Regions from separate parts of the Homo sapiens genome. Here all the other regions are reported to be linked to region 4. The links are microRNA targets in miRTarBase. Many come from high-throughput screens and were not tested one by one. Region 4 holds a microRNA gene; each other region holds the end of a gene's coding sequence.
The links. Region 4 holds the annotated microRNA hsa-miR-619-5p (GCUGGGAUUACAGGCAUGAGCC, at 940-961, shown strand). A microRNA usually pairs through its seed, bases 2 to 8, with sites in the 3' UTR of a target mRNA and lowers its output. Matches are read on the target gene's strand: a 7mer-m8 pairs with bases 2 to 8, a 7mer-A1 pairs with bases 2 to 7 and ends in A, and an 8mer does both.

Region 1: miRTarBase lists ASB16 as a target of hsa-miR-619-5p. Seed matches in the 3' UTR shown: 7mer-A1 at 803-809.
Region 2: miRTarBase lists IVD as a target of hsa-miR-619-5p. Seed matches in the 3' UTR shown: 7mer-m8 at 1,267-1,273, 7mer-m8 at 1,404-1,410, 7mer-m8 at 1,645-1,651, 7mer-m8 at 1,780-1,786, 7mer-m8 at 2,079-2,085, 7mer-m8 at 2,237-2,243 and 2 more.
Region 3: the mRNA of CCDC30 is a reported target of hsa-miR-619-5p. Seed matches in the 3' UTR shown: 7mer-m8 at 2,117-2,123, 7mer-m8 at 1,264-1,270 and 7mer-m8 at 175-181.
Region 5: the mRNA of ELOC is a reported target of hsa-miR-619-5p. Seed matches in the 3' UTR shown: 7mer-m8 at 1,472-1,478 and 7mer-m8 at 1,336-1,342.

The regions. Positions count from the first base shown.
Region 1 is chr17:44,178,109-44,181,240 of GRCh38, forward strand. It overlaps ASB16 (ankyrin repeat and SOCS box containing 16), which reads left to right. Exons shown (of 5, transcript NM_080863.5): 5 at 97-976. The coding sequence ends at 282. The region is part of intron 2 of ASB16-AS1 (ASB16 antisense RNA 1); the gene reads right to left. Among named protein-coding and RNA genes, the nearest start is that of ASB16-AS1, 7.0 kb to the right of the region's middle.
Region 2 is chr15:40,417,612-40,420,743 of GRCh38, forward strand. IVD (isovaleryl-CoA dehydrogenase) reads left to right here. Exons shown (of 12, transcript NM_002225.5): 12 at 519-3,132. The coding sequence ends at 652. Among named protein-coding and RNA genes, the nearest start is that of IVD, 13 kb to the left of the region's middle.
Region 3 is chr1:42,653,425-42,656,556 of GRCh38, reverse strand. It overlaps CCDC30 (coiled-coil domain containing 30), which reads right to left. Exons shown (of 21, transcript NM_001395517.1): 20 at 3,114-3,132; 21 at 1-2,739. The coding sequence ends at 2,529. All of the region lies in intron 1 of LOC124904162 (a long non-coding RNA gene), which reads left to right. Among named protein-coding and RNA genes, the nearest start is that of PPIH, 3.4 kb to the left of the region's middle.
Region 4 is chr12:108,834,791-108,837,922 of GRCh38, reverse strand. It overlaps MIR619 (microRNA 619), which reads left to right and starts at 917; the gene lies at 917-1,015. The region is part of intron 2 of SSH1 (slingshot protein phosphatase 1); the gene reads left to right. RefSeq lists an enhancer at 1-61.
Region 5 is chr8:73,943,914-73,947,041 of GRCh38, forward strand. It overlaps ELOC (elongin C), which reads right to left. Exons shown (of 4, transcript NM_005648.4): 4 at 1,206-2,907. The coding sequence ends at 2,717. Among named protein-coding and RNA genes, the nearest start is that of ELOC, 27 kb to the right of the region's middle.

The sequences.
Region 1 (3,132 bases), not on the chromosome of region 4:
GTGGGTGCATGCTGCAAAATCCCAGGACCCCCACCGCTGGGTTGCCCCCAGATGGTAGGGCAAGGGTCATCTGACCTTCTTTCACTCCTGGCCTAGGAGCACGAAGCCTTCTACAGCTCGGCCCTGTGCATGGTGAACCAGCCAAGGCAGCTGCAGCACCTGGCCCGACTAGCTGTGCGCGCTCGGTTGGGAAGCCGCTGCCGGCAGGGTGCCACCCGGCTGCCACTGCCCCCGCTCCTCAGGGACTACCTGCTGCTGCGTGTGGAGGGGTGCATCCAGTGAACCCCATGTCAGGCTGTCCCATGGTGTGTTCTGCCCCTCCCACCTGTCCCCGCCTCCAACTGCGGAGGACCAGTTCCTGGCCCTCTTTTCTTTTCTTTTTGAGACCTAGTCTCACTCTGTTGCCCAGGCTGGAGTGCAGTGGCGCTATCTCGGCTCACTGCAACTTCTACCACCTAGGTTCAAGCGATTCTTGTGCCCCAAACTTCCGAGTAGCTGGGACTACAGGCATGAGTCACCACACCTGGCTGATTTTGTATTTTTAGTAGAGACAGGGTCTCACCATGTTGGCCAGGCTGGTCTCACACTGACCTCAGGTGATCCACCCGCCTTGGCCTCCCAAAGTGTTGGGATTACAGGCATGAGCCACTGCGCCTGGTTGCCTGCCCCTCTTTTCTGTACTCCACGTGCTGTCCTGGTCCACCTCACTCCTCCATGGGCTTCTTGAGACACCTGCTGACCTCTAGCCGGACCTGAGCTTCAGACCCTCTCTCCAGCAGGAAGGGCTGCAGACTCGGCCTGTTCCCAGACTCGGCCTTCACCTCCCTTCTCCTCCTGTGTTTAAGTGGATGGCCCCTCTATCCATCCAGGTCCCATGCCAAGAACCAGTGATTCTAGTGGCCCACCACCTCCCTCTCCTGCCACCCTTATACCTGTTCAGCCTCCTAAAGAGGGACAAACTCTGTCTCTGCGTGCACTGGCTTGCCTGCCCTGCCTTTGTCACTCCAAGGGAGATCTTGAGACCCATGCCCTGAATTGGTGCTGGAATGGTCTTTGGGAGTCAAACTCTGATCATGCCCTCCAGTGGCTCCTCTCACACTAAAATCAAAACTCTTTAAAACAAGCTGAGTGCAGTGGCTTACACCTGTAATCCCAGCACTTTGGGAGACTGAGGCGGGAGGATCACCTGAGGTCAGGAGTTTGAGACCAACCTGACCAACATGGTAAAACCCTGTCTCTACTAAAAATACAAAAAATTAGGCCAGGCGCAGTGGTTCATGCCTGTAATCCCAGCACTTTGGGAGGCCGAGGTGGGCGGATCACGAGGTCAGGAGTTCTAGACCAGCCTGGCCAACATGGTGAAACCCTGTCTCTACTAAAAATACAAAAATTAGCCGGGCATAGTGGCGGATGCCTGTAATCTCAGCTACTCAGGAGGTTGAAGCAGGAGAATCACTTGAACCTGGGAGGTGGAGGTTGCAATGAGCCAAGATCGCGCACCGCTGTACTCCAGCCTGGGCAACAGAGCGGGACTCCGTCTTAAAAAAAAAAAAAAAAAAAAGTCTTCCGTGAGGAGCGCAGAGGAGGTCGCGGCGCCGGAGGCCCCAGAAGGCTCGAAGGCACCGCGGGCTGGGGTCGGTGGCTTAGGGAGCCCGTCTGGCCATGGTGGCCGCGGGTGGTGGTTGGCGCGGCTGCGCTGCGGCCCGGGGCAGTGCGGACTGGGACAGTCGCGGCGCTGACGCCCGCGGGCCCCAGCTGCAGATATGAAGCGGAGCCGCTGCCGCGACCGACCGCAGCCGCCGCCGCCCGACCGCCGGGAGGATGGAGTTCAGCGGGCAGCGGAGCTGTCTCAGTCTTTGCCGCCGCGCCGGCGAGCGCCGCCCGGGAGGCAGCGGCTGGAGGAGCGGACGGGCCCCGCGGGGCCCGAGGGCAAGGAGCAGCCGCCTGCCTTGGCCTCCCAAAGTGCCGAGATTGCAGCCTCTGCCCGGCTGCCACCCCGTCTGGGAAGTGAGGAGCGTCTCTGCCTGGCCGCCCATCGTCTGGGATGTGAGGAGCCCCTCTGCCTGGCTGCCCAGTCTGGAAAGTGAGGAGCGTCTCCGCCCGGCCGCCATCCCATCTAGGAAGTGAGGAGCGCCTCTTCCCAGCCGCCATCACATCTAGGAAGTGAGGAGCGTCTCTGCCCGGCCGCCCATCGTCTGAGATGTGGGGAGCGCCTCTGCCCCGCCGCCCCATCTGGGATGTGAGGAGCGCCTCTGCCCGGCCGAGACCCCGTCTGGGAGGTGAGGAGCGTCTCTGCACGGCCGCCCCGTCTGAGAAGTGAGGAGACCCTCTGCCTGGCAACCACCCCGTCTGAGAAGTGAGGAGCCTCTCCGCCCGGCAGCCACCCCATCTGGGAAGTGAGGAGCGTCTCCGCCGGGCAGCCACCCCATCCGGGAGGGAGGTGGGGGGGGGGTCAGCCCCCCGCCCGGCCAGCCGCCCCATCCGGGAGGGAGGTGGGGGGTCAGCCCCCCCGCCCGGCCAGCCGTGCCATCCGGGAGGGAGGTGGGGGGGTCAGCCCCCCGCCTGGCCAGCCGTGCCGTCCGGGAGGGAGGTGGGGGGGTCAGCCCCCCGCCCGGCCAGCCGCCCCGTCCGGGAGGTGAGGGGCGCCTCTGCCCGGCCGCCCCTACTGGGAAGTGAGGAGCCCCTCAGCCCGGCCAGCCACCCCGTCCGCGAGGGAGATGGGGGGGTCAGCCCCCCCACCCGGCCAGCCGCCCCGTCCGGGAGGGAGGTAGGGGGGTCAGCCCCCCGCCTGGCCAGCCGCCCCGTCCGGGAGGGAGGTGTGGGGGGTCAGCCCTCCGCCCGGCCAGCCGCCCCGTCTGGGAGGTGAGGGGCGCCTCTGCCCAGCCGCCCCTACTGGGAAGTGAGGAGCCCCTCTGCCCGGCCAGCCGCCCTGTCCGGGAGGGAGGTGGGGGGTCAGCCCCCCGCCCGGCCAGCCGCCCTGTCCGGGAGGGAGGTGGGGGGGTCAGCCCCCCGCCCGGCCAGCCGCCCTGTCCGGGAGGGAGGTGGGGGGTCAGCCCCCCGCCCGGCCAGCCGCCCTGTCCGGGAGGGAGGTGGGGGGGGGTCGGCCCCCCTGCCTGGCCAGCCGCCCCGTCC
Region 2 (3,132 bases), not on the chromosome of region 4:
TTTGGTACGTGAATCGTCCCTTTGTGCAGCCTATCTATGCTATGTGGGCTACCTGCCCGTTAGTAGTCACCTAGGGTATCCAATCAGCTGTCCTGATATCAGAGTGCCTGTGTTCAAGTAACTCTTATTTTGCTCAGTGGCCCCAGATTGCAAGAGTAGTGATGCTGGCATGTCATAATAGTTCTATTTTAGTATTTGTTATTATTGTTGATCTGTTACTATGCCTAGCTCATAAATTAAACTTTCTCATAAGTATGTATGTATAGGGAAAAAAACAACATATATATGGGGTTCGGTACTATCTACGGTTTCAGGCATCCACTGGGGTCTTGGAATGTATCCTCCAAGGATAAGGAAGGACTAGTGTATTCCCCACACCCCTCCCTCTTGCTACCTTTTGCTGCTTTTCTTTAATCACCCTCTCCTCCTGTGGCCTGTTTCTATATACTTGGCATTCTGTTTGCTTTCTTTGTTTTGTCAATCACTTCCTTTCTTCTCTGCCCAAACCCTGGTTGCAGGTGGCAATGGCTACATCAATGACTTTCCCATGGGCCGCTTTCTTCGAGATGCCAAGCTGTATGAGATAGGGGCTGGGACCAGCGAGGTGAGGCGGCTGGTCATCGGCAGAGCCTTCAATGCAGACTTTCACTAGTCCTGAGACCCTTCGCCCCCTTTTCCTGCACCTAGTGGCCTTTCTTGGGAAGTAGAGATGTGGCGGCTTTCCCACCCTGCCCACAGCAGGCCCTCCTGCCCAGCTGCTCTTGTCAGCCCTCTGGCCTCTGGATGAGGTTGAGTTCTCCACAACAGCTCCCAAGCATCATGGGCCTCGCAGCCGGGCCTGTGCCACGGCTAGTGTTGTGTGATTTAAAATGGACTCAGCAGGAAGCATATTGTCTGGGGATTGTTGGGACAGGTTTTGGTGACTCTGTGCCCTTGCTCTCTAACTTCTGAGCCCACCTCCCAGGGTAGGCACCTGGGGGCATGCAGGTGCCCACCTCCCAGGGTAGGCACCTGGGGGCATGCAGGTACCCACCTCTTTCTCTTGGGTGAGGCTCTGGCAAGGAGATCTCTCTGCTCAAGCACAGCAGAATCATGGCCCCTCTCCATGAATTGGAACTTGGTACAGGTTAAGTATCCCTAATCCTGAAATCTGAAACACTTGTGGTTCCAAGCATTTTGGATAAGGCAAATTCAACTTTCAGTCTCTTTTCTGGGGGAAAAAAATAATAAACCTAGCCTAGCCAGGCGTGGTGGCTCATGCTTGTAATCCCAGCACTTCAGGAGGCTGAGATGGGTGGATCACCTGAGGTCAGGAGTTCAAGACCAGCCTGGCCAACATGTGGAAACCTCGCCTCAACTAAAAATAGAAAAAAATTAGTTGGGCATGGTGGTGGGCACCTGTAATCCCAGCTACTTCAGGAGGCTGAGGCAGGAGAATTACTTGAACCCAGGAGGCGGACGTTGCAGTGAGCCGAGCTTGTGCCATTGCACTCCAGCCTGGGCGACAAGAGCAAAACTCTTCAAAAAACAAAACAAAACAAAAAAACCCTGGCCCTTGTTTCTTCCAGTTTCTAGAGGTATCAGCTCCTAGCAGCTTATGAACACATATGCTTGCTTGGCCAGGCAAGGTGGTGTGTGCCTGTAATCCCAGCACTTTGGGAGGCCAAGGCAGGTGGATCACTTGCAGTCAGGAGTTCAAGACCAGCCTGTCCAACGTGGTGAAACCCCATCTCTACTAAAAATACAAAAATTAGCCAGGGGTGGTGGTGCACGTCTGTAATCCCAGCTACTCAGGAGGCTGAGGCAGGAGAATCACTTGAACCCGGGAGGTGGAGGTTGCAATGAGCCAATATGACACCGCTGCAGTCCAGCCTGGGCCATAGAGTGAGACTCTGTCTCAAAAAAGGAAAGAAAAATAGGCTGGGCACAGTGACTCATGCCTGTAATCCCAACACTTTGGGAGGCCGAGGCAGGTGGATCACGAGGTCAGGAGTTCAAGACCAGCCTGGCCAAGATGGTAAAACCTCGTCTCTACTAAAAATACAAAAATTAGCCAGGTGTGGTGGCAGGCTCCTGTAATCCCAGCTACTCAGGAGGCTGAGGCAGAGAATTGCTTGAACCCGGGAGGCAGAGTTTGCAGTGAGCCAAGATCACACCACTGCACTCCAGCTTGGACGACAGAGCGAGACTCTGTCTCAAAAAATAATAGGCCAGGCATGGTGGCTCAACGTCTGTAATCCCAGCACTTTGGGAGGCCGAGGCGGGCAGATCACAAGGTCAGGAGTTCGAGACCAGCCTGACGACCAACATGGTGAAACCTCGTCTCTACTAAAAATACAAAAATTAGCCAGGCCTGGTGGCACGCGCCTGTAATCCCAGTTACACAGAAGACTGAGGCAGGAGAATCGCTTGAACGCAGGAGGCAGAGGTTGCAGGAGCTGAGATCGCGCCATTGCACTCCAGCCTGGGCAACAGAGTGAGACTCTGTCTCAAAAAATAATAATAAAATAAATGAACACACATGCTGCTGAGTCCGCAGGGGGGGCAGAGCAGAGGACAGCGTGCTTTTGTGTACTGTTGGAAGACTGGCTCCTCCTGTACAGCACCTCTGAGCCCTTGTGCACCGCCCTGCCACGGGCACCATCCAGTCCTGGCCGTGTGACCACCCACAGCTGACTGGGCAGCAGGCACAGGCCCTACCCGAGCAGGCCGGAGTTGGCTCGCATGACTCCAGCTGAGGCTGCCTGTGTACATTTCTCCAGATACCCTATGGCTAATTTTGTTATAACTGCACAGTGGCTGCTGCCATTTTGTATTAAATATATTGTGAAACAAACCTATCTGGGGAGAAGCAATCTACTTGCCGCTGCTTCCTGTCTGGATCCAGCTTGTGTCCTTGGAGAGTGGCTGGCCCAGGTCCTATTCCTGTCCTCCAGCCCGTTCTTTCATGAGGGACAGGAAGGTAAAATCAGCCCTTAGGAGAGAGGTCTCAGCCTCCCTTTCCCAGATCTCCCAGTGAGTTTTAAAGGAAGCAGGGAGCCCAGAGTGCTAAGTTCTTACAGCCAGAAGGAAGCTTATAGATTTCTGAAAACCGCCCCTTTGTTTTTAAAAAGATCAACACAATTTGACTTT
Region 3 (3,132 bases), not on the chromosome of region 4:
TGGGTTCAGGTGATTCTCGAGCCTCAGCCTCCCGCATAGCAGGGACTACAGGTGTGCACCACCATACCCGGCTAATTTTTGTATTTTTAGTAGAGACAGGGCTTTGCCATGTTGGCCTGGCTGGTCTTGAACTCCTGGCCTCAAGTGATCCACCTGCCTCGGCCTCCCAAAATGCTGGGATTATAGGCGTGAGCCACCGCACCTGGTCAGGCAGAACCCTTTTTTAAAGCAAAGGAAGTGATGTCCTAGAGCAATATTAACATTTATATCCTTTGACTCAGTCCAATCTTGCGAATTTGTTTTCTGGAGTAATTCAAAAGAAGAAAAGAACTACATGCACAAAGACCTTCAACACAGCATAATCTTAAATAGTAACAAAGTAAAACCAGGCCTGGCATAGAGGCTCATCCTATAATCCTATCACCTAGGAGGCTTAGGTGGGAGGATCACTTGAGCCCAGAAATTTGAGACCAGCTTGAACAATAGAGTGAGAGTGAGACCTCGTCTTTACAAAAAGTACAAAAATGAGCCAGGCATGGTAGCACATGCCTGTACTTGGGAGAGGCTGAGGAGAGAGGATCACTTAAGCATGGGAGGTTGAGGCTGCATGAGCAGTAATCAAACCACTGCACTCCAGCCTGGGTTACAAAGTGAGACCCTGTCTCAAAAAAAAAAAAAAAAAAAAAAAAGTAAAAACAGCTTAAATGCCAAACAAGAGAACGTTTAATTTATAGAACATCCACATCCTCAGAGATACTGAGCAGTACTGTTCCACCCTGATAGATGAAATGGATGTGAATGTTGCTGATCTTTTCTGAAGAAGCAGTCCCACTACACTAAAGATGAGCTGGAGACTGTTCACCTACTTTGTACTCCTGTTTGGAAATATTTAGGGGTAGTTTCTGTGTAATGGGGTTTATGTGAACTCTCTTCTCATACCCCCTCCCCCAGGAAAAGCTCTTGGTATTTTCCTATCCACTTTTATTTTATTTTATTTTATTTATTTTTTCGAGATGGAGTCTTGCTCTGTCACCCAGGCTGGAGTGCACTGGTGCAGTCTCGGCTCACTGCAACCTCTGCCTCTCGGGTTCAAGTGATTCTCCTGCCTCAGCCTCCCCAGTAGCTGGGACTACAGGCGCGCGCACTACCACACCTGGCTAATTGTTTTTGTATTTTTGTTAGAGACGGGGTTTCCCTAAGTTGGCCAAGCTGGTCTCGAACTCCTGACCTCAGGTGATCTGCCCACCTCGGCCTCCCAAAGTGCTGGGATCACAGGTGTAAGCCACCACGCCCAACCTCCTATCCACTTTTAAATAATGTATTGCTCTAAATCTTCTTCATTAAACATTTAAAACTTTTCCCATAAAAATAATTATAGAACATCAACATGATTGAATATCATATGGCGATTGAAAATGTTTCCATGGTATATACAGTAAATTAAAAATCAAACTGTGAAAATGAATATACAATATTATAATAACCACTTAGAATATATGTACTTGAATTAGGACCAAAAGGGAATAACTGTAAAATAAAATTAGTTGTGTTAAGACTGTGGTATTGGTGTAATCCCAGCACTTTGGGAGGCTGAGGTGGGTGGATCACCTGAGGTCAGGAGTTCAAGACCAGCATGGCCAACATGGTGAAACCTTGTCTCTACTAAAAATACAAAAATTAGCTGGGCATGGTGGCGGGCACCTATAATCCCAGCTACTTGGGAGGCTGAGGCAGGAGAATTGGTTGAACCTGGGAGGCAGAGGTTGCAGTGAGCGGAGATCATGCCACTGCACTTCAGCCTGGGTGACAGAGTAAGAGACTCCGTCTCAAAAAAAAAAAAAAAAGCTTATGGTATTATAGGAGGGTTTTTGTTTTTGTTTTTTGCTTTTTTTGAGACGGAGTCTCACTCTGTCACCCAGGCTGGAGTGCAGTGGTGCTATCGCAGGTTCACGCCATTCTCCTGCCTCAGCCTTCTGAGTAGCTGGGACTACAGGCACCCGCCACCACACTCGGTTAATTTTTTTGTATTTTTAGTAGAGACAGGGTTTCACCGTGTTAGCCAGGATGGTCTCGATCTCCTGACCTCGTGATCCACCCACCTCAGCCTCCCAAAGTGCTGGGATTATAGGCGTGAGCCACCACGCCCAGCATAGGAGGGTTTTTTTAAAAACAAAATTTGCTTTAATGTGACTGTATTGTTTTTACTGTTAAAAAATAAATCAGAAAAGATACCCATGATAATGGGAAAGAATGTTGAATTAACCCTACATGTGCTCTGCTGAAGAGAAACCTAAATAAATCATTGAACTAAAGTCAATATTTTGGTCAATACAAGGCATCTGAGGATATCAAACAAACTTGAGAAATCCATTTTTACAACTGCTTTAATGAATTTATCAGCAGTTTTGAAGACTCTTGGGTGATATCCATTTGGGATCTGTGGTAACTCTTCTCAATGTCATGGTCCACCTTTTGTCCAGGCTTTAAATTACCACTTTTGTTCAGTATAGCTTTAGGCACCAGTGATTTTATAGTTCTGACTTTTGGTCTTGTTCTTGTATACCATGTGTCTCCTTCAGAGAAGCCACATTTATGTATCCAGCCTCAGAATTCTGTGAACACACAAGATTCTCAGGAGACTTTTCAGGGGACTTTGAACTTGCCATTGCTTCTTTTGACTTGATCTCTTCAGTCTCTTGAAGACTTGCAAATGACTCTACCAAACCTTTTCCTGAAAAACTAAGAAATGCCATATGTGAGGACATCATGTACATAGAGTTTGTTGGTAGCAGTTCGGGGTTACAGGGATACAGGCATTGATAGAATTTCAATTTTTTGCAACTGTTACACAAAGCCAAATAAAATTTACCTTAAACCTATGTTCATATTTTATTTCCTACCTTAAGTCAGGATTCTGTGGGGTTTAGAGTTGAAGGAGTGGCAAGGGGAGGAATTGGAAGAAGATTCAAATAATTCATGTAGAGAAAATGACCCCAGAAAGCTATGCCTTCTCAAGCCAGCAATCCAGGACTAGTTAGGCAGCCATGACTCTCAGGCATGGCTGACAGTCCATCTCAGATAGACTTGACTTTATTTGTCTTGACTTTACTAACCTGGAGTTTGATAAAGGCA
Region 4 (3,132 bases):
TAGTCCCAGCTACTTGGGTGGTTGAGGTGGAAGGATCGCTTGAGCCTGGGAGGTGGAGGCTGTGCTGCGTGAGCCGTGGTCGTCCCACTGCACTCCAGCCTGGGCGACAGAGTAAGACCCTGTCTCAAAGGAAAAAAAAAAAAATTGGTAACTCGAAAACTTGTAATGCTCCCAACACATACAAATGATTAATACTCAAGGTCATGGATACCCCAGATACTCTGACTTGGTCATTACACAGTTTATGCATGTAACAAATACTTACATGTTTTCCATAAATATGTAAAATACTACGTCGATAAAAAATTCTCGTTAATTTTGAGATAATTTCCAGCTTACATAAGAATTGCAAGTACAGTGAAAAGAACTTTCTTTTTTGAACCATTTGAAAGTAATTTGTCAACCTGCTACTCCATTACCCTTGGAATACAGACCAGGGCATTCTCCCACAGAACCGCAACACAGCCATCCACGCGGGACACTGACTCTGATGCATTCCCACCGTCTAGTCCTCTAACCCCATTCAAGAGTCACCATATGTCCCAGCGTTGTCCTTCATAACAAAAGATCCAATTCAGGACTGCCCATTGCATCTAGTTATCCTGTCTCTTGGCTCTCCTGCAGTCTGGAACCTTCCTCAGTCTTTCTTTGACTCTTGTGGCCTGGATTTTATTTTATTTTTTTATTTTTTGAGTTGGAAACTCACTCTGTCGCCCAAGCTGGAGTGCAGCGGTGATATCTCAGCTCGCTGCAACCTCCACCTCCCGGGTTCAAGCGATTCTTGTGCCTTAGCGCCCCAAGTAGCTGGGATTACGGGCATGCTCCACCACGCTCGGCTAATTTTTGTATTTTTAGTAGAGAATAGGGTGTTGCCATGTTGGCCAGGCTGGTCTCGAACCCCTGACCTCAAGTGATCCGCCCACCTCAGCCTCCCAAAATGCTGGGATTACAGGCATGAGCCACTGCGGTCGACCATGACCTGGACATGTTTGTGCCCAGTACTGTCAGTTTGCAGAGTGTCCCTCAGTGTGAGTGTGTCTGATGTTCTTGTGTGATTCCACCGGGCACGTGTATTTGGCTGGAACATCACCCAAGGGATGCTGCGTCCTCGTTGAATCCCATAAGGTGGCACTTGATTTCCTTTTGTCCCACTATGGTGACATTCACTTTGGTCACTAAGGTGGGTTTTACCAGGCTTTTCCACTGTACAGTTATTCTTTTCCCCTTCATCATTCAGAAGCATTCCTTGGAGAGATACTTTAAAATTATGTTAATATCCTGTCTGCCATCAATGTCCGTTTCAATTCTTTGTATTTTTCTGTTTTATTCAGTGGTTTATAATCTGCTCTTAAATTGTTGACATCCTTGCTCAAATTGTCCTTGTGGACAGTTAGGGCCAGTGGGATCTCATCCAGGCTGGCTTCTGTGTCCCTTTGACATGTCCACATCATTCTTTAAGTGCTTTCTTGCTTTCTGGCAACAGATGCTCCCTACCCACCTGTGGAATCAGTCCTTTATCCAAGGGGCTCTGGTTCCTTTTAGTGGAAAATGAAATTTAGGAGCCAAGCTAGGTCTGCTTATTGCTGTTGGGGTGTTGCTAACCACAGGCCTCTCAATGGGCAGAATTAGGGAACATTTGTATGTACGTGCATACACACACACGTGCATCTATATTTATTTCAATAGGTTGAAAACTATGAGTTCAGACTGGTACCTTCAATTCTGATGCAGCACCTTGGGGTTCATTCTAGTTTTGTCTCTCCATATTCATGACTCCCATTGTCCCTGAAATATTAATAAATATTAACATTATGCATATTATATAAACTTAGGTATTATTTATATTATATAGTATATATTTGTTAATATTGATTATATTAATATTAATATAATCGATTATATTAATATAGTTATAATCGATTATATTAATATAGTTATAATCGATTATATTAATATAGTTATAATCGATTATATTAATATAGTTATAATTGATTATATTAATATAGTTATAATTAATTATATTAATATAGTTATAATTAATTAATATAATATGTATATATGCTATATATCATAAATATATTAATTATAAATATTAATATTAACATTAATGTTTAATATTTCATTCCTTGCCTGTGAGCAGTCTCTGTCTCCCTTGCAGCCCCCTCCCTGCACAGATGCCCTTTGCACCCTGCTTGCCAACAGACACCTCAGCTTGGGATCCCACACCCCCTCCCCAACTCAGAAGCTTGCCCTGCCCTTCCCCGCCAAATGGTTTTTAGGTCTGAATTGTTGGGAGGAGAAGTGGACTTTTTTGAGACTGTTTTCCAGAGGTATCAGTTCAGCTGAAAGCCAGTGCCTAAGAGCAGAGGTTTCAGAGTTACACTCCTGCCTTCCCCTTCCTGCTTCCCGGCTCCTTGGTCTCATGAACTTGGGCAGGTGACTTAACCTCCCTGAGCCTCAGTGTTTGTTTGTTTTGTTTTCTGTTTTTTTGTTTTTTTAAGACGGAGTCTTACTCTGTTGCAGTGCTGTGGCACAATCTCGGCTCACTGCAACCTCCATCTCCTGGGTTCGAGTGATTCTTGTGCCTCCCAATAGCTGGGATTACAGGAGCACGACACCACGCTCGGCTAATTGAGCCTCAGTTCCCGTATGTATAAAACACTGAGAGATGGACACTGGGGAATAAATGAGTTAACATACCTGATGTGCTTAGCATAGCGCTCAACGAAGATGTTATTGGTGTTACATTTATTGATGTCCACTGTTTTCTGGGCACTGAGAGGGATCCTGAGACAGAGAAGTCATAGGCCTAGCTCTCCAGACACTCAAGGTGATGTGGGGAACTTAGCTGCTGTTGTGTTATTTGAAGCACTCAGTTGTCAGGAAGACCTGACCTGACCTCCAGGTGGCTTTAACTCGCACGTGGCATGATGCTGTGAGTCTTATTTGCCAGGTTCAACCTGTGTGTGGGGAGTGCCCAGTGTGCCCAGGGCACAGAGATGACCAGGGTGAGTTACTCCTGGAATACTGACTTCAGAGAAGAGCACAGCTTGGCCAGTGTATCTACCAGCACTTACTTTCAATCTACTGTATGTCAAGCACAGAGGGAGATTTAAAAAGCATGTGCATCCT
Region 5 (3,128 bases), not on the chromosome of region 4:
AAAAACAAAATGAAAAAAATTAAATTAAAAAAGGAAGATTATCTTGATAATAACTGCATGAAAGATAAGCAATTTAAAAAGCATAACCTAGTGTAAAAATGAAGTAACTGAATAATACAAAGAATTTTGTGGTAATGTTTTTTATGCAGAAAAAATAATATAGAATCTGCACATAATTTGAAAAGTAAATTACCAAGTGTCAGAAAACTGTTAAGATCTCAGTGTTATATCTTAAATTTAACCAAGTAAAAATTTCTGATATTCAAACACATGGCAGAAATGTCCTGAGGCAAAGTTTAACGAATCCTCAGAAAATTAAGGCTAAAAAAAAAATGGCTAAAATACAGAAAAAAAAACAGAAAATTAAGGCAAAAGAAAATTAAGGCTAAAAAAAATCAAACACCAAGTGTTCATCATACCTCAGCCTTTATTAACATGCAAGTACCATGTGCTTCAAGATAAACAGGCTTGCTTAGTCTTTGATTCAGTTTTAATGTCTTAAACTTAAGGTTACTTCTGATTCCAATACATAAAATAACCTATGAAAACTGGTCAAAGTTAAACTTTATTTCTATTTTTCTTTGTTTGAGACTGAGTTTTGTTCTTGTTGCCCACGCTGGAGTGCAGTGGCACGATCTTGGCTCACTGCAACCTCTGCCTCCCAGGTTCAAGCAATTCTCCTGCCTCAGCCTCCCGAGTAGCTGGGATCACAGATGCGTGCCACCACAGGCGGCTAATTTTTCTATTTTTAGTAGAGATGAGGTTTCACCACGTTGGCCAGGCTGCTCTGGAACTCCTAACCTCAAGTGATCCACCCGCCTCAGCCTCCCAAAGTGCTGGGATTATAGGCATGAGCCACCATGTCTGACCTTGACTTTTGAAATCACTATTTAGGTTTATACTTGGCATCATTTGTCACCACATGGCAGAATATAATTCTTGTACTTGATAAATAATCTTCTATATTAAAATATGTACCAGTATAGCTTAAGAAGTTACTAAGGCGGCTCTGGGCGCGCTGCCTGGAAGTTAGCCCTGCTCTGCAAGGAGCAGCTTAAAAAAAAGTTACTAAAAATATATAATTTATATTTAACTTCTTTCAATAAGCTGGAATGTATAATGTTTAGGTATAAGAGGAAAAATTACTTTTGTGTATGGTTTTTGCAGTTTCCAGAAAAGCTGGTCCATATTAGGCCAGTCTTTTTTTTTTTTTTTTTTTTTTTTGAGACAGTCTCGCTCTGTCACCCAGGCTGGAGTGCAGTGGTGCGATCTCGGCTCACTGCCACCTCCACCTCCCAGGTTCAAGCGATTCTCATGCCTCAGCCTCACAAGTAGCTGGGATTACAGGCGTGTGCCACCATGGCCTAGCTAATTTTTGCATTTTTGGTAGAGATGGGGTTTTGCCATGGTGGCCAGGCTGGTCTCAAACTCCTGGCCTCAAGTGATCTACCCGCCTCGTCCTCTGAAAGTGCTGGGATTACAGGCATGAGCCACCGGGCTCAGCCATATTAAGCCAGTCTCAAATAAGCTGGAGACTTAAGTTTATAGACCCTATAATGACAACTTTGTTCCACCTCTGAGATAAAGACAATACTAAACCCATCTCCAGTGCTTCTTTCCCCATGCATAAGGAATGATGCTGTCATATTTTTTCAAAAAATTTTTTGGCTGCTTAATAGAAAAGCTGAATGAGCTTGATTTCAGTAGAAGACCCACTGATTATGGGTATATTTATTGGGACATATTTTAATAGAAGATAATTCATGTAGGATATCTTCAATGCATTATAATATGATTTTCACTGTATCTCTTCACATGTTATTCCATAACATTCTAATTGGATGGAGAAAGACTGGAATAGTTCAAAAAGGTGTAGCTTTTAAGATCTGAATAAAGTTAATAGTGAGTCTTTTAAAATACATTTAAACAACTGGAAGTATAATCACAACAAGGGACTATGAAGGAAGAATAAATATTGCAAACGACGCTTTATAGTCAATGCAAATACAGTACTTTGAATTACCCAAAATGTATAATGCACAAGAACTCTAAGTCATGTAGTTTACTTGCTGACCATCTGGCTACAGTTCAGTTTCTTCTGCAAAAGCTGTACCTAGTAACCTTCCAAAATTGTTTTTAAATAAAGTTCTTAAATTGTAGCAATAAACAAAAGGACAAAGTACACTTAAAGAATACTGCAGTTTATCAAAAGACATAAGAAATTTCAACTCATACTTGGAGAGTTATAAAAATCAATGTTTTGGCTAAGTTATAAACATGTTTATAATGCAATTATTTGCATAACTCTAGTAATGCTAATGGCGGCTATAAGATTAGGTTTCTAAAAAACCACTAAAAACATAAAAATACTTAGCCTCATTATTTCCCTGTAGAACGTATTGATTTACACCTAAATTTCAGTATTTACTATATCATCATTGCTGATTTTAAGTCACATTCAAAGGATAAGGCAAAACCACCTACGAATTGGCATATTTGTTTATTTCTCAGTTTGTGAAAATGTCCTTAATTTGTTGATGTAGCAAACAAATTTCAACTTTGATTGCTATGCAAAAAAACAAGATAATCTGCTTTGCAATGAACTTTATATAGTTCAACTGCATACAGGCAACATGCTATATATGAAAAAGTTACTAACTGAACTACAGGTATTAAATACTGAAAAGAGTTAACAGTTTATTATAATTTATTTTATTTAACAATCTAAGAAGTTCGCAGCCATCAGCAGTTCCAGTGCAATTTCAGGTGCAATTGGGAATTCAGGAATCTCGGTGGAGCTGTTAGTGTAGCGAACCTTGTACGTAAAATACATGCATACTTTCGATAGCACATGTGAAGGTATCTCTCTAAAATTGACCTCATTGGTTTCGTTCTCAGCAAACTGACCTGTAAAACAAAAGAATTATGTATGTTATTGGCTGAATTGTGTCCTCCAAATTCATATGTTGAAGTCTTAACCCCTTGTACCACAGAATGTGGCTGTATTTAGAGATAAGTTCTTTAAAGAGGTAATTAAAAGAGGTCATTAGGGTGGCAATCCAATATGATTGGTGTCTTTTTGTTTGTTTGTTTGAGACAGAGTCGCGCTCTGTCACCCAGGCTGAAGT